Linked DNA regions of Homo sapiens. The protein of the gene in region 4 purifies or fractionates together with the protein of the main gene of each other region. This does not show direct contact. Each region holds a gene or a part of one and is shown on either strand. Other genes may lie near its edges. The genes, in order: SUCLA2, PCK2, COQ8A, NT5C3A, IARS2, ALDH18A1 and DHX32.

Evidence for each region.
Region 1: the proteins of NT5C3A (region 4) and SUCLA2 purify together in Homo sapiens (affinity purification with mass spectrometry; one large-scale study listed by BioGRID and IntAct). This does not show direct contact.
Region 2: the proteins of NT5C3A (region 4) and PCK2 purify together in Homo sapiens (affinity purification with mass spectrometry; one large-scale study listed by BioGRID and IntAct). This does not show direct contact.
Region 3: the proteins of NT5C3A (region 4) and COQ8A purify together in Homo sapiens (affinity purification with mass spectrometry; one large-scale study listed by BioGRID and IntAct). This does not show direct contact.
Region 5: the proteins of NT5C3A (region 4) and IARS2 purify together in Homo sapiens (affinity purification with mass spectrometry; one large-scale study listed by BioGRID and IntAct). This does not show direct contact.
Region 6: the proteins of NT5C3A (region 4) and ALDH18A1 purify together in Homo sapiens (affinity purification with mass spectrometry; one large-scale study listed by BioGRID and IntAct). This does not show direct contact.
Region 7: the proteins of NT5C3A (region 4) and DHX32 purify together in Homo sapiens (affinity purification with mass spectrometry; one large-scale study listed by BioGRID and IntAct). This does not show direct contact.

What each region holds. Positions count from the first base shown.
Region 1 is NC_000013.11:47,942,274-47,945,773, forward strand, and holds the end of SUCLA2 (succinate--CoA ligase [ADP-forming] subunit beta, mitochondrial precursor), read right to left. Parts: intron 1,173-3,500; coding exon 1,098-1,172; 3' UTR 383-1,097; downstream 1-382. UniProt on the Homo sapiens protein: ATP-specific succinyl-CoA synthetase functions in the citric acid cycle (TCA), coupling the hydrolysis of succinyl-CoA to the synthesis of ATP and thus represents the only step of substrate-level phosphorylation in the TCA.
Region 2 is NC_000014.9:24,097,311-24,100,810, reverse strand, and holds part of PCK2 (phosphoenolpyruvate carboxykinase [GTP], mitochondrial isoform 1 precursor), read right to left. Parts: intron 2,609-3,500; coding exon 2,424-2,608; intron 2,337-2,423; coding exon 2,133-2,336; intron 1,763-2,132; coding exon 1,575-1,762; intron 1,254-1,574; coding exon 1,091-1,253; intron 817-1,090; coding exon 598-816; coding exon of another isoform or gene 506-597; exon of another isoform or gene 58-505; intron 1-57. UniProt on the Homo sapiens protein: Mitochondrial phosphoenolpyruvate carboxykinase that catalyzes the conversion of oxaloacetate (OAA) to phosphoenolpyruvate (PEP), the rate-limiting step in the metabolic pathway that produces glucose from lactate and other precursors derived from the citric acid cycle.
Region 3 is NC_000001.11:226,978,294-226,981,793, reverse strand, and holds part of COQ8A (atypical kinase COQ8A, mitochondrial), read right to left. Parts: intron 1-3,500. UniProt on the Homo sapiens protein: Atypical kinase involved in the biosynthesis of coenzyme Q, also named ubiquinone, an essential lipid-soluble electron transporter for aerobic cellular respiration.
Region 4 is NC_000007.14:33,056,277-33,059,776, forward strand, and holds part of NT5C3A (cytosolic 5'-nucleotidase 3A), read right to left. Parts: intron 1-3,500. UniProt on the Homo sapiens protein: Nucleotidase which shows specific activity towards cytidine monophosphate (CMP) and 7-methylguanosine monophosphate (m(7)GMP). CMP seems to be the preferred substrate.
Region 5 is NC_000001.11:220,139,132-220,142,631, reverse strand, and holds part of IARS2 (isoleucine--tRNA ligase, mitochondrial precursor), read right to left. Parts: coding exon 3,493-3,500; intron 2,450-3,492; coding exon 2,343-2,449; intron 830-2,342; coding exon 684-829; intron 1-683.
Region 6 is NC_000010.11:95,605,441-95,608,576, forward strand, and holds the end of ALDH18A1 (delta-1-pyrroline-5-carboxylate synthase), read right to left. Parts: intron 1,504-3,136; coding exon 1,322-1,503; 3' UTR 501-1,321; downstream 1-500. UniProt on the Homo sapiens protein: Bifunctional enzyme that converts glutamate to glutamate 5-semialdehyde, an intermediate in the biosynthesis of proline, ornithine and arginine.
Region 7 is NC_000010.11:125,874,793-125,878,292, forward strand, and holds part of DHX32 (putative pre-mRNA-splicing factor ATP-dependent RNA helicase DHX32), read right to left. Parts: intron 1-3,500.

The DNA.
Region 1 (3,500 bases), on a different chromosome or scaffold from region 4:
GATTGCTTGAGCTCAGGAGTAAGAGACCAGCCTAAGCAACATAGTGATACCCTGTCCCTACCAAAAAAAAAACAAAAATCAAAAACAAAAAAAAACACATATGTTTTTTTGTGGTGTGTGCCTGTAGTCCCTGCTACTTAGGAGGCTCAGGTGGGAGGACTGCTTGAGCCCAGGAGGCAGAGGTTGCAGTGAGCATGATCATACCACTGCACTCCAGCTTGGGTGACAGAGTGAGACCCTGACTCAAAAAAAAAAACAAATCACTGTCATGGCAAGTATATGATCTAAGAATTGGTGCTTAGACCTCTATACTGCAATAACGAACAAATCAACTTCTACTGTGTTTACCTCAAAACAAGCAAACAAAAGCCATGAACCCAAATCATATTGGGAGATTTTTATTAACTTAAATTGACATTCTTAATTTTGTCTGTAAGTCCTTGGTATATATGCCTTTATTTGAAGCAAACCTACAGGTGTTTCTTAATATGACAGAATCATGAAGACTTGCAGTTAATCAGTGTTTCCTAATGATTAAAACAATGTTCAAATAATTACAAAGTTACTTCATCAAAATACTTAGAAGAATATTCTGAGGAGTGTTTGAAAGCTCTGTTTATAAATAGTGATTGATACATTTATCATGTATTTGGTGCTGAAGATAAACACTTTTTACATAAAACATTGTTTTAATATACTGCTCTACTAATGAGGCTAGTTATTAGATATACTGTATTTTAACACTAAAGAATAAAGCTTTATCTTCGTATTTATCTTATTTATAGGACTCTTATCAATGAAGAACTTTGTATCCAACAATAATAAACTGGCAAATTGCAAGTTACGTTTTGTAGGAGAAGCAAAAAAGACTGGCTGCGACAAAAGAAAGAAGATAACTGCATTATACATGCTTCGTACAAACAGTCCATTCTGAATGGTACAATTAAATGCAGTCCAAATCCTTTTAAATGTTTGTGTGCCTAGATGGCAATTACAATCTCCACACACTAAAAAGAAAAAGAACAATAACACAGAACACAGTATTCTTAATGATTATAGCACATTTAACACCTTCAGCCATCCACTGGGTTTTCAGATCATATTGGCAACTGAAATTTCACATCCACATGTGCTTGCTTCGCTAAGGTCACTATTTCAGAGAGCTTTACAACCTAAAAGAAAAGAACGAAGAATTTTCACAAAAAGGTAAATTCAGAACTACAGGTCAGTGCAAAATTAATGTACACTCAATTTTTTCCATTTAAAACATCTGGACTATTCTGACATTGCTATAAATCACATTACGTTCTTATAAGCAAATGACATTCTCAAAGGATAATCAAGTCTGACACTCCTCATAGTCCAAACTTCAATTAAATACTTTCTGATTAAGATGTTATACCACCTGCTAGGATTACACATATGTATTACATAAGATTATATATGTGTGTATAAAATGTGTGTGTATGTATGTGTGTGTGTGTGTGTGTGTGTATATATATATATATTATTCTAAATTTTATCTTAAAGACAGAAACAGTGAGTGTCTTTGTTGGATACTCCACAACTCAAAGCACATCTAAGTAAAAATTTGTTTTGAAATAAGTATACAATCTTAACTTAAAATGTTGGGATAGAAATTTGGGTCTACTAGTTAGTATTTTACTTTTTGTCAGTAAGTTAACAATTGCTAACCTGAGTTCCAATTCTCTCTACAATCTGTCTAAAAATATCCACCAGTTACCATACAAAACATCATACAAATTTAGACATGTCTAAGACCAAAAAAACAAACTCAGCTTCTCTCTTCCTCAGTAAATTAGTTAAGAAAAGGCTTTGAAGTTAGATATCTTTGGCTGCAAATCCCCCCTCTGATGCTTATGACATACAACCTTGAATAAGTTAACTTATCTAGCCTGTTTCTTCATCTATAAAAATGGAAATTTTATCACCAAATTCATATTAAATGAGATAATCCTTGAAGAAAACAGCTTAGCATTGCATGCACAGTAAACACTCAATAAACAGTAGTAACTGCTAATATCATCATCATCTCATTCAATATTATTATTGTTATGACTTCTATAATCTCCCAGTCAATAAAAACACTGTAGTCATAATTTAAATCAACTGTTCACTTTTACCTCTCATGATCTATTTGATCAAGGTCCTACTGGTTCTTCTCCTTCTTTTCATGTCCTCCAAGCTTTTCTTAATTTAAGTTTTCATTCCAAAAAAGTGCACTTTCAGAGACAAGTTATAACCTATTTATTACCTTCACCTTTTCTCATATCTAAGTATTGCACTAGATGGACTCCTACTATCTCTCCCCTTTTCCCTTCAATATATCCCACATCTCAAAGTCAAAATAGGCTTTCTGAAATACTTTCTCCTACTATTCCCTTGCTCAAATTCTTTATTTTTAATTCAGGTTTAAGTTTAAATTCTTCTGTCTCCAAGCTAGAGTTAAATTTTGTTTACTAGTAAGTACTTTCCCAAAGAAGGACATAAGACTTTTATTATTTTTGTGAAATGACATCACATTAACTCGGTAAATTCAAGAGTCTGGCCAAGCCTGGGGGCTCATGCTTGTAATCCCAGCACTTTGGAAGGCCGAGGTGGGAGGATCATATGAGGTCTGGAGTTCGAGACCAGCCTGGTCAACATGGCAAAACCCTATCTCTACTAAAAATACAAGGCTGGGCGCAGTGGCTCACACCTGAATCCCAGCACTTTGGGAGGCCGAGGCAGGTGGATCACAAAGTCAGGGGTTCAAGACCAGCCTGACCAACATGGTGAAACCGCATCTCTACTAAAAATACATAATTAGCCAGGCATGGTGGTACATGCCTGTAATCCCAGCTGCTTGGGAGGCTGAGGCAGGAGGATTGCTTGAACCTGGGAGATGGAGGTTGCAGTGAGCCGAGATCACACCACTGCACTCCAGCCTGGGCAACAAGACCAAAACTCTGTCTTAAAAAAAAAAAAAAAAAAAAAAAATTAGCTGGGCGTGGTGGCACACACCTGTAGTCTCAGCTACTCAGAAGGCTGAGACACAAGAATTGCTTAAACCCAGGAGGCAAAGGTTACAGTGAGCTGAGATCACGCCACTGTACTCCAGCCTAGGTGACAGAGCAAGACTCAGTCTCAAAAAAAAAAAAAAAAAAAAAATCAAGAATCTACTATTGATTAAGCTATAGAGCCCAAAGAGTGTTCGAGTGTTCAATGAAATGTCTATAAACATAATGGAAGGGAAGACAAAAAATTCTCATCTCTCTGTATCTACTATGAAGTGTTCTCTGATACACATTATTGTTAAGTAAAAGAAACAAAGTATAGATTACCATTAATCTAAAGTGGGAAAAGGGAGACACACACACACACACACACACACACACACACACACACACACAAAGTCCCCCCCTTATCCAATTTCACTTTCTACAGTTTCAGTTACCTGCAGTCAACTGTGGTCCAAAAATTTTAAATGAGAAATTCCA
Region 2 (3,500 bases), on a different chromosome or scaffold from region 4:
AGGATTGGGGTGAATGCTTTGGAGGGACAGGGGAAGGGTGACGGTAACAATACTGACCTTTAGACAGTGGTTATTATACAGGGGACAGTGGGAGCCAAGTGGCAGGAGGAGAGTTGGAGCAGAGGAGGCAGCTTTCCTCTTTTCCTAATGGGCCAAACTTTATGGATAGTGCTTGGAGCCCAATACCTTCTGTAAGAATGTTCAAAAGTCCTTCCTTTTCCTTTCATTAAAAAAAAATCCAGCCTGTATTTATTATTGAGAATTTACTGTGTATTTGTCAGTGTGATAAACCCTTTTTATGCACTATTTAATCCTCCAACAATCTCATGAGATAGGTACTATCACAACTACCCTCATTCAACTGATGTGGAAACTAAAGCTTAGGGAAGTTGAGCAACTTAGCCAGATCACAAAACCAGTGACTGGTGGAGTTGGGACATGAACTGAGATTTTGCCTGGGACTGGAAACTGCAAACGTTCATGACTTCTGTGCCTCCTGGCAGTCCTAGAAGATGGTTGGAGGTTGTGGAGAAAGCTTTTCCACCATTAAGGTGCTGAGGCCTGGAGGCTGTGCCACACCTTCCCCACCGCACATACCAGGTTTCCAGGGTTTGCCCAGCCAGGAGGTCACAGTAACACCAGGTGGAAGAGGCTGGTCAATGCCCTCCCAGTACACGCCACCATCACTGGTCTCAGCCACATTGGTAAAAATAGTGTTACTCTGGATTGTAGCCATGGCGTTGGGATTGGTGGTGGCAGAGGTACCAGGGGCAACCCCAAAGAAGCCGTTCTCAGGGTTGATGGCCCGGAGTCGACCTGTTAGGAGAAGTGAAAGAAAGGAAGGACCAAACAAGGAAAACTTGAGATGTAAGACCAAAGAAGGTCCTGCTCCACCCACCCCTGTCCTGAGATGGACCCAAGATCTGATGAGGAAAGGCTGTCTCTCGGGTGGCTGGGCTGCCAGAGGAATGGAGCAGGGTTGGGTGTTCAGGAAACTTTCTCACTGACAAAGTCATTGTGAACACTAGAGAGGAGACCCCGAGGCTCTGACAAGAGCCAGAACCAAGAGTATGATCTGAGAGTCCCTCACCTTCACTGTCAAACCTCATCCAAGCAATATCATCCCCCACACACTCCACTTTCCAGCCTGGCAGTGCAGGCCGCATCATAGCCAGGTTGGTCTTGCCACAGGCACTAGGGAAGGCGGCTGCCACATAGCGCTTCTTCCCTGCAGGGCTGGTGATGCCCAGGATCTGTGCATTGGGGAGAGAGGGAATAAGAAAGAGGTCACCAAAAGTCAGGGCATGGTCTGCATGGGGAAGGGCAGCTAGGGTCTAATAGGGAGGACCAATGTTTATTAACTATATAAGTGATTGCCCTGCCATCAGGCCTGGGTTAGTGGCAGGGGAAACCTCAACATTCAGCAGCCTGAGGCCAAAGCTTTGGGCCTTCAAGTAGAGTCCCCGCCCACCAGCCTGGCACCTGGCAGGAGGGAGGTGAGGCTGAGGCAGACTGGCCAGGCCCCACCCCTGCCCTGTCCCCGGCAGCTGCCCTGCTTCTCACCAGGCCCTCACCAGCATGTGCTCTGCCAGCCAGCCCTCATCCCGGGCCAGCCGAGAGGCGATGCGTAGGGCAAAGCACTTCTTGCCCAGCAGGGAGTTGCCACCATAGCCGCTGCCGAAGGAGATGATCTCCCGCTGGTCGGGCACGTGGCCAATCAGGGTTTTCTCTGGGTTGCACGGCCACTGGCTCACTGGCTCCCCTGGGGACAATGGGGTCATGGGGCTGCTGGCAGCAGCATCAGGAACTGGGGTGTCGGGGCCAGAGGGATCAGGGATTGGCAGGAGAGACACTTGGGAGCAGTAGCAGCACCAAGAGGTGGCTGAAGCCCCCCACCTCATAATAACCATCAGCTTCCATGCCCCTATTCTTGGACACGGATTTTTCTCAACCTAGTGCAAAGTGCTCTGCAAACACAGCCTTATCCCTCTGCTGGGACTGCTGCTCTGGATCTTGGGAATTAGGTTGCCAGAGAGGACAGGTTCTTAGGGTCTGTGGAGAGGTAGGATTTGGGATTTCCTCTGAGTACAAGAAGGCCTCTGTGTTCCCCTTGGGGCAGAGCAGGTGCTTACCTTGTCCTGTCAGGGGCTGGCCCACGGAGTGCAGACACTTGACAAAGTCACCATCTCCCAGGGCCTGAAGCACAGGTGTCCCCAGTCGGGTCATAATACGCATGCTTGCCACCACATAGGCTGAGTCAGTGAGCTGCACCCCGATGCGGGACAGCGGGGAGCCCACAGGACCCATGCTGAATGGAAGCACATACATGGTGCGGCCTGTGGAGGAAGGCATCCCCTGGATGAAGGGTTCCAAACCTGTTCACATCTTCCGTGCCCTTGCCACTGTGCCCCTGCCCTGGTTACCCTGCATGCAGCCTGGAAACCTCTCATCCACAGCTCGCTGGAAATCAGCTGGGGACATCCAGTTGCCCAGCTGCCCACGGGCCCCACCAGGCGGGAGTGGTACCGTGTCCCGCTGAGAAGGAGTTACAATCACCGTCTTGCTCTCTACTCGTGCCACATCCTTGGGGTCTGTGCGGGCCAGCCAGCTGGGGGAGAGGGGATTGTCAGGAAGATGGTGGCCAGCAGGTTTCCCTTGTCCCTAGACCCACTTTTTCAAGTCCAACTTTGACTCCAGGTCTTCTGTTGGCCTTATGTTTCCCCACCCAATCACATCTCAGTCCCTTCCTCCAGGCTTTGTCCCATCTAAGGGGTGTTCCCCAAGGTCCCAGCCCTCTGGGGGTCTCTGCCCCTGGCAAAAGCTCCCTGAACTGGTGAGGAAAAAAAAAAAAAGCAAAGGATCTTATTTATATCAGCTTCTTCATTTAACATTAAAATAAAATACAAACTACAAACTAGGCTGGGCGCAGTGGCTCATGCCTGTAATCCCAGCACTTTGGGAGGCTGAGGTGGGTGGATCACTTGAGGTTAGGAGTTTGAGACCAACCTGGCCAACATGGTGAAACCCTGTCTCTACTAAAAATACAAAAATCAGCTGGGTGTGGTGGCGCATGCTTGTAATCCCAGCTACTCCGGAGGCTGAGGCAGGAGAATTGCTTGAGACAATTCCCCGGAGGCAGAGGTTGTTGTGAGCTGAAATCATGCCACTGCACTCCAGCCTGGGTGATACAGTGAGACTCCATCTCAAAAAAAAAAAAAAATCCCAGTTTCTTTCTTTTTTTTTTTTGAGACAGAGTTTCGCTCTTATTGCCCAGGCTGGAGTGCAATGACGCGATCTTGGCTCACTGCAACCTCCGCCTCTTGGGTTTAAGTGATTCTCCTGCCTCACCCTCCCAAGTAGCTGGGATTACAGGCATGCGCTGCCATGCTGGGCTAATTTTTGTATTTTTTTTTTTTTTTTTCAGTAGAGACGGGGTTTCTCCATGTTGGTCAGGCTGGTCCCAAACTCCCGACACCTGGTGATCCACCCGCCTTGGCCTC
Region 3 (3,500 bases), on a different chromosome or scaffold from region 4:
GTGCACACACAAACGCACACACACAAAGGGCCTCTCCCTTCCATATGGGGACCTGGCGGGCCGTGACAGGGCCATGGTGCTGCCTGTGGCTGGAAGGGGCGTGGGAGTGGGAACCAAGAGGGATGTAGGGACCCAGAGGACCCCAGGTGAGGAGGTGCCGAGCCTTTGCCCTGTGCACCCCCACCCAGGGCACTGCACAAAGGCCCGCTGCACCTGTGGGGTCGGCATGCATTTGCACATGGGGCCAAGTGGCTTCAGCCAGAGGGCTGTCCTCAAGGGAACGGCGCTCAGGCCAAGGGCAGCACAGCCCAGGGGTGCCCGTCTCTCCCGTCCACCCACAGAGGCCCCCTGCAGCTCAGTGCAGCCAGCTGGCCAGTGATGAGCATGCAGTGACCCCAAGGGTGCAGGTGGCCTTTTTCCAGTCCACCAAGGGGAGGGCTGAGGGCCGCGACTCAGGAGCAGCAGAAGGCCGGCTAAGTCAACTGCCAGCAGGCGTGTGGCCCAGGGCTGCTGGGTCCTCTCTAGCTTCCCCCCTATCCTGGGCCATCAGTTCAGTGCTGCCTAGACATGGAGGTGCCCCTATCCAGAGGCAGACAGAGGCCTGAGCAGGGATCTGGGGCTCCAAGTCTTTCCACCTTCCCTGAGTTCCTCAGCACCCCTTGTCGCCGGGCCTCCAGCCCTTGTGACATTCGGAGCTTCTCCTGCCTTCTGTCCTGTGAATCTAGTTAGATCTCAAGCCCCAAGAGGTCGCAGTGCGGCTTCCTCCTCTCTGGCCCCCACAGCACCCAGCATTTGCCTCAGTTCAAATCACTTCAGGCCTGGCACAGCGCTCGGGTGGCACGGAGCCAGGTCCCCAGCAGGGGAAGAGAGAGGTGACCGTGCCACTGCCCTCTGCCCCGGAGCCGGGTGCAGCCTGGCCCCTGAGAAACCAGGGTGGGGCGGGCCGCCCTGAGAATGGAGGCCCTGCGGGCCCGGAAGAGGAGCCTCGGAGAAGACCCGCATCTGCCCACACATGCAGGCAGCTACGTGGAAAGGGGCCAGGCTCACTCCAGGGTCCCAGACAGCAGGAAGGGACCTGTGAAGGTGGGAGATGTTAGCTCTGCGGGAAGAGGCTGAGCTGCCCTGGGAGGCTGAGCTATGACCCATGGGCAGAGCGAGTCCAAGAGGGCTGGGCCCAGAAGGGTCCCTCGGCCACCCCCTTGCCTTAGGCAGCAGCAGACGCCAGCACCAAAGGAAAGGCAGTCAATGTCCCCTCTGCCCCCTAGGCCTGTGGTACTTGTGGGCTGGGGGCTTGGGCCTGGGTCCCTGGGGAGGGGCAGGCAGAGAGGCAAACCTTGAGGAGAGGCCACTGCCCCAGGCCAGAGGAGGGACAGTCTGTCTCCTCATGACACACAGAGTAGGCCTAGGCTAGCAGCAGCACTCCTGAGAGATGGGAACGGTGCCTGGCCCAATCCGGGCTTTCCCAGGTAGCCCATTGGCAAAGCTGGTCAATGCCACAGGCTGGAGGTATGTCCCCCACCCAGGCAGGGCTGGCTGTGAGAATGACCTGGCAAGTGGGGATGGGCCCAGGGCTACGGCAGTGTGCCCCCAGCTCAGGAAAGGTCCTTCCAGGGCAGAGCTCAGCCAGGGTGGCCGGTGTCCTCCAGTCCAGAGGGTGCCAGGGCCTGGTCAGGAAGCTGGAGCACAGTTTGGGGCTGCCCAGGGCCACCCCACTCCAGCCTAAGCCTCGGGTCCCCCTCTCAGGGCTAACAATGCCTGGGCCCCTTAACCCCCAGCCTGGGGTCACCACTGTCCCTGACAAAGGACACTAGCTGTAACTGTGAAGCCAGCCTGGCCTCTTCCCTGCTTGGATGAGGTAGTCTGGAGAACAGCCAGCTTTGGAGAGGACAGTAGGGGACAGTAGGGGAAGGCTGGCTTCTCCTTCCAGAGAAACCCAGGCTTCATTTCCCAGAGAGTGTCAGCACCAACGCTAAAAATACCCTTGCTAAGCCCTCCGTCCTCAGCCCCTTCCAAGGACGTGCATGCCGCCCGTGTCCCCAGGACTCAGTCCGGGCCTGTGGGATGGACTAGTGCCCTTGCCCCAGAAGGCAGCGTTGGTGGGTGAAGGGGGGCTGTCCGGGGACTGGCAGGGCCCCCAAAGGAGGCTAGCCCAGGCTGGAAGACAGGGCTGTGAGGGCTGCAGTGTGGCCAGACACTGGGTGTCTCTGGGGGTCCCCATGGACGGGGGTGGAAGGGCGTGATACCAGAATGAGCTGACATTCCCTGAATGGGCCGGGGCCAGGGGACTTGGCCCAGAACTCCAGAGGCATTGAGGAAGATCCACACGCAGACGGTTCCCTTGGCACTGCTCTCCACACCCCAGGCCCCACTAACAGGAAAGCCCCTGCTGGGCTGACCTCGCACCTACCTGGCCCGCCCCCCGTGCCTGAAGAGGCCTGAGGAGGAGCCCGGCCTGGTGTTCACAGGCAGAAGGCGGCAGGGACTCAGTGCGCCCCACTCCTCATCACAGCAGCACGAATGCCCAAAGCCTCAGCGTGGTCCGTTCGCAGGACCTCTCCACAGAGGGCCCGGCCACAGCGGGCCACCAACCTCAGTGGGATGAGTGTCCTGACCTGACCACCTGCCTGACCCTGGCTGTGACCTTCACGTCAGAGGTGAGGTGCCTCTGCATAGACTACAGCCTCCCCAGGTTACTAAGCTGGTGAGGAGAAGCCTGCAGGGTCTGCCTGCACACCTCGCCTGTCCCCAGCCACACCTGACCCGGCCAGACCAGCGACTTCCAGAGAGCAGGGCAGCAGCAAAAGGTGGGTTTACAAGGAGGTGTGCGGGTGTGTGGAGGGTAAGGTGTGTGGGTGTGTGGTGGGTGTGTGGAGGGGTAAGGAGGTGCAGTGTTCAGTGGGTGATTGGTGGGTGTGTGGAGGGTGTGTAAGGTGGTGTGCAGGTATGAGGTGGGTGTGTAAGGAGGTGTGTGCATGGAGGGTGTGTAAGGAGCTGTGCGGGTGAGAGGTGGGTGTGTACGGAGGTATGCGGGTGTGAGGTGGGTGTGTAAGGAGGTGTGCAGGTATGAGGTGGGTGTGTGGAAGATGTAAGGAGGTGTGCAGGTGTGTGGAGGGTGTGTAAGGAGGTGGGCAGGTGTGTGGAGGGTAAGGAGGTGGGCGGGTGTGTGGAGTGTAAGGTGGGCGGGTGTGTAGAGGGTAGAGTGTGTGGAGAGTGTGTAAGGTGGTGTGTGGCTGTGGGGGGTGTGTGGAGGGTAAGGAGGTGCAGTGTTCAGTGGGTGTTCGGTGGGTGTGTGGAGGATGTGTAAGGAGGTGTGCAGGTATTTGGTGGGTGTGGAGGGTGTGTAAGGAGGTGTGTGGGTGAGAGGTGGGTGTGTGGAGGGTGTGCAAGGTGTGCGGGTGTTTGGAGGGTATGTGGAGGGTGTGTAAGGAGGTGTTCGGGTGGGTGGAGGGTGGGTGGAGGATAAAGAGGTGTGCAGGTGTGTGGTGGGTGGGTGGAGGGTG
Region 4 (3,500 bases):
CAGGTCCTAAAAAGTCATAAATCTAAGCACTGATATAAATTAGATAAAAATTGAGATATGGAGATATTTTAAAAGTCTGTCCAGGTATGGTGGTTCACACCTATAATCCCAGCACTTTGGGCAGCCAAGGCAGGAAGACTGCTTGAGCCCAGGAATTTAAGACCAGCCTGGGCAAATAGTGAGACCCCGTCTCTACCAAAAAAAAAAAAAAAAAAAAAAAAAAAAAAAAAAAAAAAAAAATTTAACTTAGCCAGGTGTGGCGCCACATGCCTGTAGTCCCAGCTACTTGGGAGGCTGAAGTGGGAGGACTGCTTGAGCCCACGAGTTTGAGGCTGCAGTGAGCCATGATCGCTTCATTGCACTCCAGCCTGGCAGCAGGGTGAGACCTAGTCTCAAAAATAAAATAAAATAAAGTCTATTTGATTCACTAAAGCAGTTGTTTAAAACTTGGGTTGCTTCTCCCTTCTTTTTTAAAACACAGACTCAATAGTGGGCTTTCGATTCACTCAGTATAATACCCAGAAAACATGTGATATTTTCTTTGTTTTTTTTGAGATGGAGTTTTGCTCTTGTTCCCCTGGCTGGCGTGCAATGGTGTGATCTCCGTTCACTGCAACCTCCGCCTCCTGGATTCAAGTGATTCTCCTGCCTCAGCCTCCCGAGTAGCTGGGATTACAGGCATGTGCCACCATGCCCGGCTAATTTTTTGTATTTGTAGTAGAGATGGGGTTTCTCCATGTTGGTCAGGCTGGTCTCGAACTCCCAACCTCAGGTGATCCGCCCGCCTTGGCCTCCCAAAGTGCTGGGATTACAGGTGTGAGCCACCGCACCCGGCCCTTTTTTGTTTTTTTAACTGCTCCTTGAGGAGCAGGGCTAACTCATAGGCAATGCACCCAGAGTTGGCCTATATTGTCTTAAAGTGGAAGAAGGGAAGAAGTTTTTGTTAACAGTTTATTTACTAGGACCAGGCACAGTTGGTACACACCTGTAATCCCAGCATTTTGGGAGGCCAAGATGGGTGGATCTCTTGAGCCCAGCAATCTGAGAACAGCCTGGGCAATGTGGCAAAACCCCCATCTCTACAAAAAAATACAAAAATTAGTTGGGCGTGGTGGTGCGTGCTTTAGTCCTGGCTACTCTGAAGGCGAGATGGGAGGATGGCTTGAGCCCAGGAGGTGGAGGTTGCAGTGAGCTGAGATTCAACCACTGCACTCCAGCCTGGGTGATCGAGTGAGACCCTGCCTCAAAAAGAAAATAAAATAAAAAAAGAAGTTTATGTCCTAGAAAGAAACACAGTATGCTAAAGTTTTAAAAAAACCACATCAGCTACTTAAGTAATAGTTGACATTAACAACAAAGCAATAAATTGTTGAGATATGTTTAAATTGGAAATGACCATTTTTAACTGGTTGTAGAGGTTCTAGTGATCGTTCCATCTCCCCTATCCCCCACATCAGCTACTTAAGTAATAGTTGACGTTAACAACAAAGCAATAAATCGTTGAGAGATATATTTAAATTGGAAATGACCATTTTTAACTGGTTGTGGAGGTTCTAGTGACCATTCCATCTCCCCTATCCTGCTGTCTAAATAATTTCCTCCCTTCCTCGTTGGTTTTTAGGGGCTAAGCTTAAGACTACACATTCATTCTAGTGTTGTGCTTGCATTTTACTTCACTGGATAAATACTCTACTTTAGAGAATTTAATAAAGGATATTAGAATAACTGAATAAGATTAAGCAATCTCATTTTTTTTTCCTTTTGGCTCTTTCTTTGAATTCTAGTCTCATCCTCTTTTTGGTAGCTTTATTAGAGAAAAACTGAAAATTTGCTGATAAAAATAGAATACATTCTGATATTGCAGGAGAAATTAGAAAAGAAGTCGGTATGTAACATTTGAAAGAGGTGTCATTTAGTAGGAAAAATCAGATTAACTGGATAGAAGTAATGAATGAAGTAGGTGGAGGCAATTAATCTAAGGCTGTAAATAATAAGATGTAATATAATGAGAATATGGAGAGTAAGTAACTATAATTCAGTATGAATAGTACACTTTTATTATTTTTTTATTTTATTTTATTTTATTTTGAGATGACATCCTGCTCTGTCACCCAGGCTGGAGTGCAATGGTGCAATCTTGGCTCACTGCAACCTCTGCCTCCTGGTTTCAAGCGATTCTCCTGCCTCAGCCTCCCAAGTAGCTAGGATTACAGGCACCCGCCACGACGCCCAACTACTTTGTTTTTTTATTTTTAGTAGGGACGGGGTTCCACCATGTTGGTCAGGCTGGTCTTGAACTCCTGACCTCAGATGATCCACCCGCCTTGGCCTCCCAAAGTGCTGGGATTACAGGCGGGAGCCGCCGCGCCTGGCCCAGAGTAGTACACTCTTTCAGAAAGACAGAGATGTTCCGTATTCCCCTCAAAAGGCATCTGTCCACATCTCCCCTAGAACTTTGCTAGACTGATTATTTTTTCTCCTCCTCTTATCTTTAACCATTTGCTTTTCACTACTCCTCTGCCCACCAACATACTTCTGTGCCAACCATTCGAAAAACAAAACAAAATACCCATCCTCAGCACAACTACTTCCTCTGCCCAAAAGTCATTTTTTAGTTGTCTTCACATCATTGTTTTACCAACGGCGGCTCAACCCACTGCTACCATAGCCTTTCAGACCAACTTCTGATCTTGTCATCAACTTCTGACCTTAGAGAAGATGGACATAGCTAATTCTGCCCCTTCTTTTGGAAACATTTCCTGTTATTCCACCTCTGACAGCTTTCAGCATCTTTACTGAACTTGGCATTGCCAAGTTTTCTGTTTTCTTCTCGCTGTAAAACTATGGATGAGAAATAATATCCAGCTCCACACTGGCCATTGAGAGGCTAGACATTAGGGAAAATATTATTTCTAGCCTCAATTTATCTTTAGAGCTCCAGCCTTCCATTTTCAGTTGCTATTGCTAATAATAACAATAAGTAATGTATATATTGGTTACTCTGGGCCAGGCACTTTTCTAAGCACTTTAAATATATTAACTATTTCATGAACATTTCTAGTTGGTCATTCCTTGATCATCTCAAATTTCATATGACTTAAAGTGAACTTGTGATTCCACATTTCCCTTACCTCCTGGCTACTTTCCAAACCTGCCATTTTTTCCTTCTCTTCATCTTGGCTAATAATATAACCAGAATCAGCAGTTACCTGATAATCTTAAAGTTATTTCTCCTTACAATTAATCCCTTTATCTAATGATCACAAATAATAAGCTCTGAAAGAAAGCAATTATGTTCTAGGCACTGTGTTATCTCATTTAATCTTCACAACCTATGAAGTAGGTACTATCATTATCTCCCAATTAATAGATGAAAAATGGGAGATTCAGAGAGGTTAAGTAATTTGCCCAAGGTCACATGGCTTGATAAATGAGAAAAACTAGATTCAAAACTAGGTTTGTATGACTCTACAGTCTGTGCACAAAGTCCCGTTGATTTT
Region 5 (3,500 bases), on a different chromosome or scaffold from region 4:
TCTTCCTACACTTCTATAGTTTCTAATTTTTATAAACTTAATACAATCAGAAGAAAACAACTAACATAAAACTCACTAAAAGCACTATATTTTGTTTTAATACAACCTAAAATATATTTCAGAACATTTTTTTTGACAGTCTTGCTCTGTCACCCAGGCTGAAGTACAGTGGCATGATCTTGGCTCACTGCAACTTCCACCTCCCGAGTTCAAGCAATTCTCCTGCCTTAGCCTCCCAAGTAGCTGGGACTACAGGCACCCGCCACCACCATGCCCCACTAATTTTTATATTTTTAGTAGAGATGGGGTTTCGCCATGTTGGCCTGGCTAATTTTGAACTCCTGACCTCAAGTGATCTGCCCACCTCGGCCTCCCAAAGTGCTGGGATTACAGGTGTGAGCCACCATGCCAGCCATTTCAGAACAGTTATAAAGGTATTTAAGAAAAAAGGTGATTTCTCGACACTGTCAAGCTGCTAATACATTTCAGAAAGCACAGAATTCTGAAATTTACCCTACTCCTCTACAAATAGGTGCAGAAACAAATACATGACCAAGACACACTGTGTCACACAGCAGTCACTGTAAATGGATAAGTGCCCCTTTTATGAAGCAGATAGAAGTAGAAGTTGCACCTTGATCAGGGATATTTCTCATTAAGAGAATAAATGAAGTATTCCTTACCTTTAATATAAGGTATGTGCTGGAACACCTCTTCAGCCAGGTGAGGAAGAATGGGAGCAAAAGAACGAACTATTACATCCAAAATTTCAACTAATGCAGTCTGACAAGAGCGTCGTTTGGGGTCATTTTCCTTTTCACAATAGAGCCTGAACAAGAACAACTTATTCAGCAGTTGACAATACTTTATACATTATGGTCACCTAGATGGGACCTGCCTCAGGTTGAGTTTATTCCTAGTGGCTAATCCTATGGCTCTAATCATCTTCTACTTAAAGAATACAATACACTCTCCTACAATTTTACTCCGTCCAGGTGTACCCACCTCCTTGAAAGCACTCATGGCTACGCTATCTCATTCTGTTTCTCAGGTGGATGACAACTAGAGTCTAGACTACTGTATTAAAGGACTATGAATAAGTTAGTTGATGGTATTTAACATGTGGCTCCCACCCACTCCAATGTTATTAGTGTTTTAAGGGAAGGAGTAGGAGTTATAATCCCTATGTGCAAGGTCCTTGGGGTGCTGACAGGCTGAGGATAACGCCTCAGACTGGACTCATTACCATGAAGGTAGGACCGTCACCTGCACACTGGAGCAACAGATGAAGACTTGGCATCAAGGCCTCTTCTACAAGGATACTGCTAATATTATACACTGTTACCATATAATTGCACATATATATCTCTCTCTTCCCCTCAGGATTTGAGAACTCCTGAGAACAAGCATTATGTTCATCGTCTGATATTAGTAGTGATGATTTTTTGAACACTTTATCAAGCACAGCTTTAAGCACATTATTGCTTTTCCTTCTCAATCACGAGGTAAGTATTATTATACCCATTTTACAGATGAAGAAACAGATTACAGAATAAGTTGCCCCAAATCAGAAAGCTAGTAAGCGGGAGGTCAAACCTTTATACTCAGACTTGACTCCGGAACCCAATCTTTTTTTTTTTTTTTTTTTGAGACGGAGTCTTGCTCTGTCGCCCAGGCTGAAGTGCAGTGTCACGATCTCGGCTCACTGCAAGCTCTGCCTCCCGGGTTCACGCCATTCTCCTGCCTCAGCCTCCCAAGTAGCTGGAACTACAGGCACCCGCCACCACGCCCAGCTAATTTTTTGTATTTTTAGTAGAGACGGGGTTTCACTGTGTTAGCCAGGATGGTCTCGATCTCCTGACCTCGTGATCCGCCCGCCTCGGCCTCCCAAAGTGCTGGGATTACAGGCGTGAGGCACCACGCCTGGCCCGGAACCCAATCTTAATAACTGCACAACACTGCCCATCTTGCTCATCACTGTATCCCTGACGGTTGCCAAACACAAGTAGACACTCAAAAAATACTTGTTGAGGTTTTGTTGTTGTTATTTTTTGAGACGAGATCTTGCTCTGTCACCCAGGCTGGAGTGCAGCAGCACAATCTCTGCTCATTGCAACCTCCGCCTCCCAAGTTCAAGCGATTCTCGTGCCTCAGTCTCCTGAGTGACTCGGATTACAGGCATGTGCCACCATGCCCGGCTAATTTTTGTATTTTGCCATACTGGTCTCGAACTCCTGGCCTCATGTCATCCACCCGCCTCGGCCTCCCAAAGTGCTGGGATTACAGGCGTGAGTCACCACACCTGGCCATTGTTAAGCATTTTAATATTTAGTCATACATACCTATCTTTGATTATACTGAAATAAAAGTTAGAGAGCTCTCTGGTATAAAACGTCCGTAACAGCCGAACAACTTTTCCAAAATCATATTGTTTGTATAATTCGGTAATCTAGGGAACAAAGCCAAAATAAATTTGGAAGCTGAGACAGGCAAATGAAAATGTAAGTCATCACAAGCAAAATATGCTCCTTTCAAAAATATGTTTCAATGAGACAAATACAAAACAGGCAATATGCAAGAACTCCTGGGAATCTTCCAAATGTCATTTCTGGATAACACATTTGACTACACTCAGAAAATACTATTTTACTCTGAGAACTACGAAAGGACATTAATTAAGGAAAGAATGAGATTGTAAATAACAAAATCACACCATTTTAACAACAGCAAACAGTGGACGTCACCAACAATTCATTAGTGTTCCTTCATTTATGCCTCATTTATTTTTGATTTGGGCAAAATTGGTATGTACACCTCTGACTTAAGGGTACACTAATGCAAACACATTTCCAATTATGAGAAAACACAATTTTTTTTTTTTAAGACAGGGTCTCACTCTGTCAACCAGGCTGGAGTGCAGTGGCACAATCACAGCTCACTGCAGCCTCAAAACCATGGGCTCAAGCGATTCTCCTGCCTCAGCCTCCCAAGGAGCTGGGACTACATGCACTGGCTAACACGCCTGGCTAATTTTTAAAATTTTTCTAGAGATAGGTTCCTGCTCTGTTGCCCAGGCTGGTCTTGAACACCTGGCCTCAAGCAATCCTCCCACCTCGGCCTCCCAAAGTAGTAGGATTTATAGGTGTGAGTTTCCACACCCAGCCAGAAAACAGAAATTATTTAAGTCTATATGAAAATGAGTAAGTATCTTATGAGACAAATAGGATAGTCCATTTTGGTTATTTCTGTACTTTATTATGAGGAGCACATGTGCAGATAAAGTATAACTCCACTTTATTCCTTCTTGTTGGAAAAATAGAGCTAATCATGAGAGAAAAATCTGGTCCGAGGGGAAGTCTGGACATATTTCTCTTCAAGAGTGCTATAGTTACTATTTCCAGCAAGGTCTGTTCCACTCAGATAAAACTAAAATTTTAACCTACAATAGTGCTGATATTTCTAGTTTCCAAAAGTTTATTAATTTACATTTACCTTGTTTG
Region 6 (3,136 bases), on a different chromosome or scaffold from region 4:
AAGCGAGTGCTTATTTCTTTAGGAGGCCCCCATGAAATCTTTCAACTGCAGACTGTCAGGCACCAGGGGCCCTAAGGACAGGAGCTAGAGATGGAGGGAGAGTGGGGAGGGTCCGAGCTGTCAAGTGATCCTGAGGCAACAGGACTGGCAGGGAGGAGCTGGGGGGATGCAGTGAACTAAGGATGTCAGCTGGGGCTATGTGCCACCGCGGGAGCTCGCTCAGGTTGGACCCCACCAACTTCAGACCTTCACTGCACTTTTAGTCTTCAAGCTCTTGGGGCTTAATCTCCTGTTTTCCTTTCCTGTCTCTCCGTCTGAGTCCCTCTGTGGGGACTGCCTATGTTGCTTCCACCAACAAACACTGTTGAGGCAGATGTCTTGTCTCCCCAGACAGCTTCCAGAGAAGAGACCATGCCCACAAGCAGGGCACGAGGGTCACAAGAGAGGAAAAGGAAGGGGGTAACAACAATTAAGGGAGAAAACTTCAATCACGCACAGGCTTTTCATAAAAAACTTTATTTCTCAAAAAAGGGGGAAGAATCCAAAGTATTAAAATAATCCTCTAATTTTTGTTTTGGAGGAAAAGGGTAGGACGACAAAATAATTCATACAAAAATTTCAAGCATCACTGCTGTAGATATTCCTCCAGCTCAGTGGGGAACATCCTGAAACTTGCATCTCCTGCTGCAGCTTGGGTTCCAGCTGCATCACGGGGAACACAGCATCTCCTGGATGCAGGAAGCTGCAAGCATCTGGAATGCTTATTAATTTACCCCACAAATAAATACAAAAGGTCAATCTTCCCAGTGGAAATGATTCCATCGATTTTTGTGACTTTCTGATGAGAATGCTAAAAAGAAGAGTTGCCCCTTTTCTAAAATTCCAAATCTTTCCTTTTTGAAGATGACTACATGTGAAAGAAATAAAATGTGAAAAGATTTGTTAAGGATGACTGGCTCTAGTACCAACTAAATGCCAAGGGGGACTGTAAGTCACTGAGGTGACACAAAGCAGCCATGGGTTTTCCTCGCCTTTTTTATGGGGAAAATGCACCTTTCAATCCTAGAAGATAATTGGACTTGGCAAAGTCCCTATCGGTAGCAACTATTTTCTTACTTTAAAAAAAAAGGGTGAGCTGGGAGCCAGACTGTGCACATCAGCCAAGACTGCTATTGCCAAACGGAGCCCAGAAGCATCCAGGTACACTTTCCAACAGGCAGACCCTACCAGGAACTGGGAGACAAGAGCGGGCTCTCTCCTGAGATAAGACAAGTTTAACGTGAAGACCTTTTGGAAAATTCCCGGGTTTTCCTGGCTCTTTTCAGTTGGTGTTTCTCTGAGGAATAGGGAGGTTCTCATGAAGATATTTTAAACTTCCATGCTCTGAGAAATCTGAGACCACGTGGTCCTTCCCTCGCAGCAGCCACTTAGTAGTAAGCAGTCCCTCAAGTCCTACTGGTCCCCGGGCGTGGATTCTCGATGTACTGATTCCCACTTCAGCTCCTGTGAAAAAGCATGAATAAAAGATGTAGCTTTTCCCAGCCTCTGCTTCCTGTCCATGCCCCAGACCCACCCTGCTGCTTTCCCCTCACTTGGTACCCTCTCTTCCTGCTAACTCCTCATCCATCCTCCCCAGAAGAGCTGAGTCACCCTGTTCCCATAAACATGTTCTTCGATTACTACAAATCATGATACACTCCTTCTCGTGAAACAGTGTGTGGACTCTTCTTCTGTATTTTATCCCCAGTGCATTTTGACAATGCTATTAATACAAGTGCTGTCTCTTTTATCAGTTTAGCATCTGAATTGCATACCATATTTTGACATTTGGGCATGTTTTGAGGGGTACGACAATGTTTACCATGATGGTTTCACCTCCTCAAATACTCTTTAAATCTTAGAAAGAAAGGGACATGTTTGTGGTATCCCCTAGAAGTCTTAGCACAAGGGACTCATTAGACAGTTACTGAATACATCAAAGGGTTACTGTTCATTCCCTTTTCTCTTGCTCCCAGCTCAGACCTAGGGAACGTCAGGGGTTTTCCTGGCCCTGGCTTGGTGTTCTGCACTGTATACAGTGGAGGCAGGGTTCCCTCAATCATCACAACTTTACTGAGCATGTACTATGTACTAGGCACTGTGTTGAGCCCTGGGGATAAAGTGGTGAATAATAGATACAAGGCCCTGTTTTTGTGGCGCTGATATTATAGCAGGCGAGGCAGCCAAAGGACAGGTGAGTAAATAGTCTCCTGTGGTGCTCAAGTGCAGTGATGGGTGCTATGACAGAGGCTGTGTGGTGGAGCTGGGGACACGCTGGGTAGGATGGTCAGGGAAAGCCTCCCTAAGGAAGTGCCTTTTGGTTGGGACCTGAACAGTGAGAAGGAGCTGGCTGGAGAAAACCAGACAGAGGTGCTGCAGGCAGAGAGAAGAGCAAGTACGAGACACAGTAGGGGCGGGATGTGCTTGGGGTAGTGGTTGGCAAGGAGAGTGAAACCAGCAGGATTCAAATTCTGGTTCAATAGCATACAGACCACATGACTTTGGACATACTACCTAACTTTATGTCTCATGCCTCAGTTTCTTCATCTGGAAAATGAGAATTCATCTTGTAGAATGAAGTGAGAGCATGCTTGCGACACATTTAGCACAGTGCTGGGAATGTAGTAAATGCTCAGTAAAATCTGTTACTGTCATTAATGCATTTCACAAGGAATTTAACTCAACCAGCTTTCACTCTGAGCTGGTGTTGGAAGGACAATGAAATGATCTTTTGTTCTTCCTTCATCCTGGATTTTCATTTGAATGCTGGGTGCCCCAGCCCTTAAAAATATGTTGCTATTTCTTTTTCAAGTACATGGAGAGTATAAAGATCAATGCAAGTGATGTGATAATTACATCAAAATCCCAACATAATACAAATGGGGAACTAAAAATAAAGAGTATCATGATTAAGAATAACTGAGTTAAATTCCCTTTCATAACCTTTTAACAATTTGGTGAGAATTATTTCTCCAGGCAGATCATCTACTCAAAAAGTTCAGAAGGATTAAAATGTGTGTCTTTCTGTTTTGTTTTGTTATACAGATAGGGCCTCACTCTCTCCCAGGCTGGAGTACAATGGCATCATCTTAGCTCA
Region 7 (3,500 bases), on a different chromosome or scaffold from region 4:
GAGGTAAGAAAATAGAAATACATAAAAATAGAGAAAGACAGAGAGAAACAGAGCCACAAATAGATGGATAGAATGAGACGTGTGTATATTGCACTCACATACATTTATTTCCTTGTTGTGTCCACTGAGATGGCCTAAAAGCAATGATAGGCCGGGTGAAGTGGGCCTATAATCCCAGCACTTTGGGAGGCCAAGGCAGGTAGGTTGCTTGAGCCCAGGAGTCCGAGACCAACCTGGGCAACATGACAAAACCCCGTCTCTATAAAAAATACAAAAATTAGTTGAGTGTAGTGGCACACACTTGTAGTCCCAGCTACTCTAAAGGCTGAGGTGGGAGGATCACTTGAGCCCAGGATGTTGAGGTTGCAGTGAGCCGTGATCATGCCACTGCACTCCAGCCTGGGTGACAGAATGAAACACTGTCTCAAAAAAAAAATTGCAATGATAAACCAATGGTAATAGGTACTTAGTGTCCAGATCTTGGTTTCAAAACACAGTTCACCACTAAACGGAACAAGGACTCCTGGAGAAAAAAAAAATGGTTTCTACACCGGCATGCGGAATGTACTAGATGAACCTGGAACATCTTACTGAGCCAGAAAGCAAAGAAGTGCTCAATAATGGGGAAATGTCAAAAGGACAGAGAAGCCACATTGGGGGCAATTTGAACAACAAAGTAAGTAGGCTTAGTAATACATTATAACCCATAGAATAAAATAAGAATTTATGAGTCCACATTGACATAAATAAATGATGAAGGAGAGAAAGCTCAGACTTACAGAAAGATTCTAAATAATGTGTAGAAGGCATGTCAGAATTAGAATAATCATCTTTGGTTACTACTAATGTAATAATTCAAAGGTAAGAATCACCAAAAATGCTAACACTAGTGGATGAATGTGAAACTGCCTTTGCAGAAATTGTAACAGTGAGAAAATTATGATGGTGAAGGAGATCTGACCTGACAACTCCATCTTGCCTTTCACCCCCAAACTCCCTTAGCCATTCCTGCAGTGGGCCAAGCTAACTTTTGTAGATAGTTTATAGTTTAAATGATGACAGCAAAATGAAACTGCCTTTGTAAAACTAATGAAAGGACACCAGGTTAGGAGGATGAGAGGGGCCTGAATTCTGCCAAGATGTAGGTGTAGTTAAATGATTACCAGTCATTATTCCAGAGGTCACAAGATTTGTAACCTCCCTGTAAATAACATCACTATTATAGAACCTAAGATTGGCCTTCTGAGATGTCTTTTCAGGTTTTTGTATTTCTGACAACTGGAGGCCCTATAACTGGATAGACCAGTAACTCCTCTGTTGTCCCTACCCAGAAGTGGACTCAGCACATGAGGACTGTTTTCCACACCTCTGTGATTGCATCCTCAGCCAATCAGCAGTACCCATTCCTTAGCCCCCTGCCCACCAAACTATCCTTGAAAAACTCTAGCCTCCAAATTGACAAAGAGGCTGATTGGAGTAATAGTACAACTCCTGTCTGCTGTTTAGCCAGCTTTATGTGTATTAAATTCATTCTCTATTTCAATTCCCTTGTCTTGATAAATTGGCTCTATCTTGACAACAAACAAGATGAACCCATTGGGTGGTTACAAATGTATAATGAGAAACATTTACATACTTTCAAAATATGTATCTATTAAATGATTGGAGGGAAATTGTTAACTTTTCAATAAAGAACCAGGCAGATACCACCTTACCAAGGGATCAGAATTAACATCACCAGCATGGGCAAAACTGACATCTTGTGCCTCCTGATATGAGGCACTGAGAAGGATACACAGCACTTGTGTGATCTTCTTGCCACAAATGCAGAGCCGGAACCTAACCCTAAGGAAACATCAGACATGTTCAAACTGAGGGAGGTTCTGCAGAATATATAACCTGTGCTCTTCAAAAATGTCAAAGTCATAAAGGACAGGGAGAGACTGGGGAGTTGTGTCAGATTAAAAAACGACAATAAAATACAATGCAATTTTAGATTGGATTTTGGACCAGAAAAACAATTTTTTTCAGTGATTATAAAGGCTATCAATGGGAAACTGATTAAATGTGAATGTCTAGAAATCAGATAATAATTAGATATCAACATTACATTCCAGATTTTGATAATTATGTTACGGCTACACACTGTTTTTCAGTAAATAAATACTCTGTTAAGTATTTGGAGGCAAAGGGCATCATGTCCTCAACCTACCCCTAAATGGTTCAGAATAAAAATGTGTATGAATGTATGGAGGGGGCAGGGAGGGAAAGATAAAGTTTATATGGTAAAATCTTACATTTGGGGAATCTGGGTGAACAACATATGGAAAATCTTTGTACTATTTTTGCAACTTTTTGTAAGTTTGAAATTATTGTAAAATAAAAACACATTTTTTCAATGTTATTTGTCCACAGAAACTAGGAAAATTATACTCAGTCAGTTCTCATCGTTAGCTTCTCGTAATGAACTGAAATCGTTTGTTATAACAATAACAGCGTAACAAAGAACAAATCATAATAAACCTTTGATACTGGCAGCTGTAAATCAGATAAAAAACATCTGTTGTCCAGCCCTCCTCTTTTCAAATTACCTTTAAAGTAAGTTAACTTTAGGGCAGGTACAGTGGCTCATGTTTGTAATCCCAGCACTTTGGGAGGTGAAGGTGGGAGGATCGCTTGAGCCCAGGAGTTCGAGACCAGCCTGGCCAAAATTGTGAAACCCTGACTCTACTAAAAATACAAAAATAAGCCAAGCATGATGGTGCATGCCTGTAATCCCAGCTACTCAAGAGGCTGAGGCACAAGAATTGCTTGAACCGGGAGACGGAGGTCATAGTAAGCCAAGACTGCCCCACTGCATTCCAGCCTGGGTGACAGAACGAGCCTCTCTGTCTCAAAAAATAATAGTGATAATAAAATAGGTAAACTCTAGAGATAATAAACAACTTGAAAGCAACAATTTATAGTAGAAAATATTCTTTTAACTCCAATTCAGAAAGCTACTGACATTAGATAGACAAATTATCAAATCCTTCTGGGCCACAGTTTATTCATCTGAAAAATGAAGGGGTTCCATCAGTTTCTAATTCTATTCTATTAGAGCATAGTCTATTCTACTAGATCTATTCGTAACTTCTCTATGAGAAATGGGACTTCTTATTATTCACACTATATGGTCTATTCTAATTCTTACATCGCGAGAATCTAGAAATGAATTTCATGATAAAAATACTGGTTGCTTGCTTTAAAACTTAAGAGTAAAATATGGATCTCACTTGAACAAAAACTTGAAGTCCAAATACAACAACAAACTGAATAATAAGTATTTATTAACTATCTAATGTTGGGGCTCAGGACATACCTCCCCAGAATATGACTGAAGGAGACCAGAATATGTGACCCCAAAATATGCCTCCTTTGCACATTTTGAGAAAGTGTAGACATAGGAGTAGCTCTGAAAAGTTACCTTTTTAAAGATAAATTTGTGCCTATACAAGAAA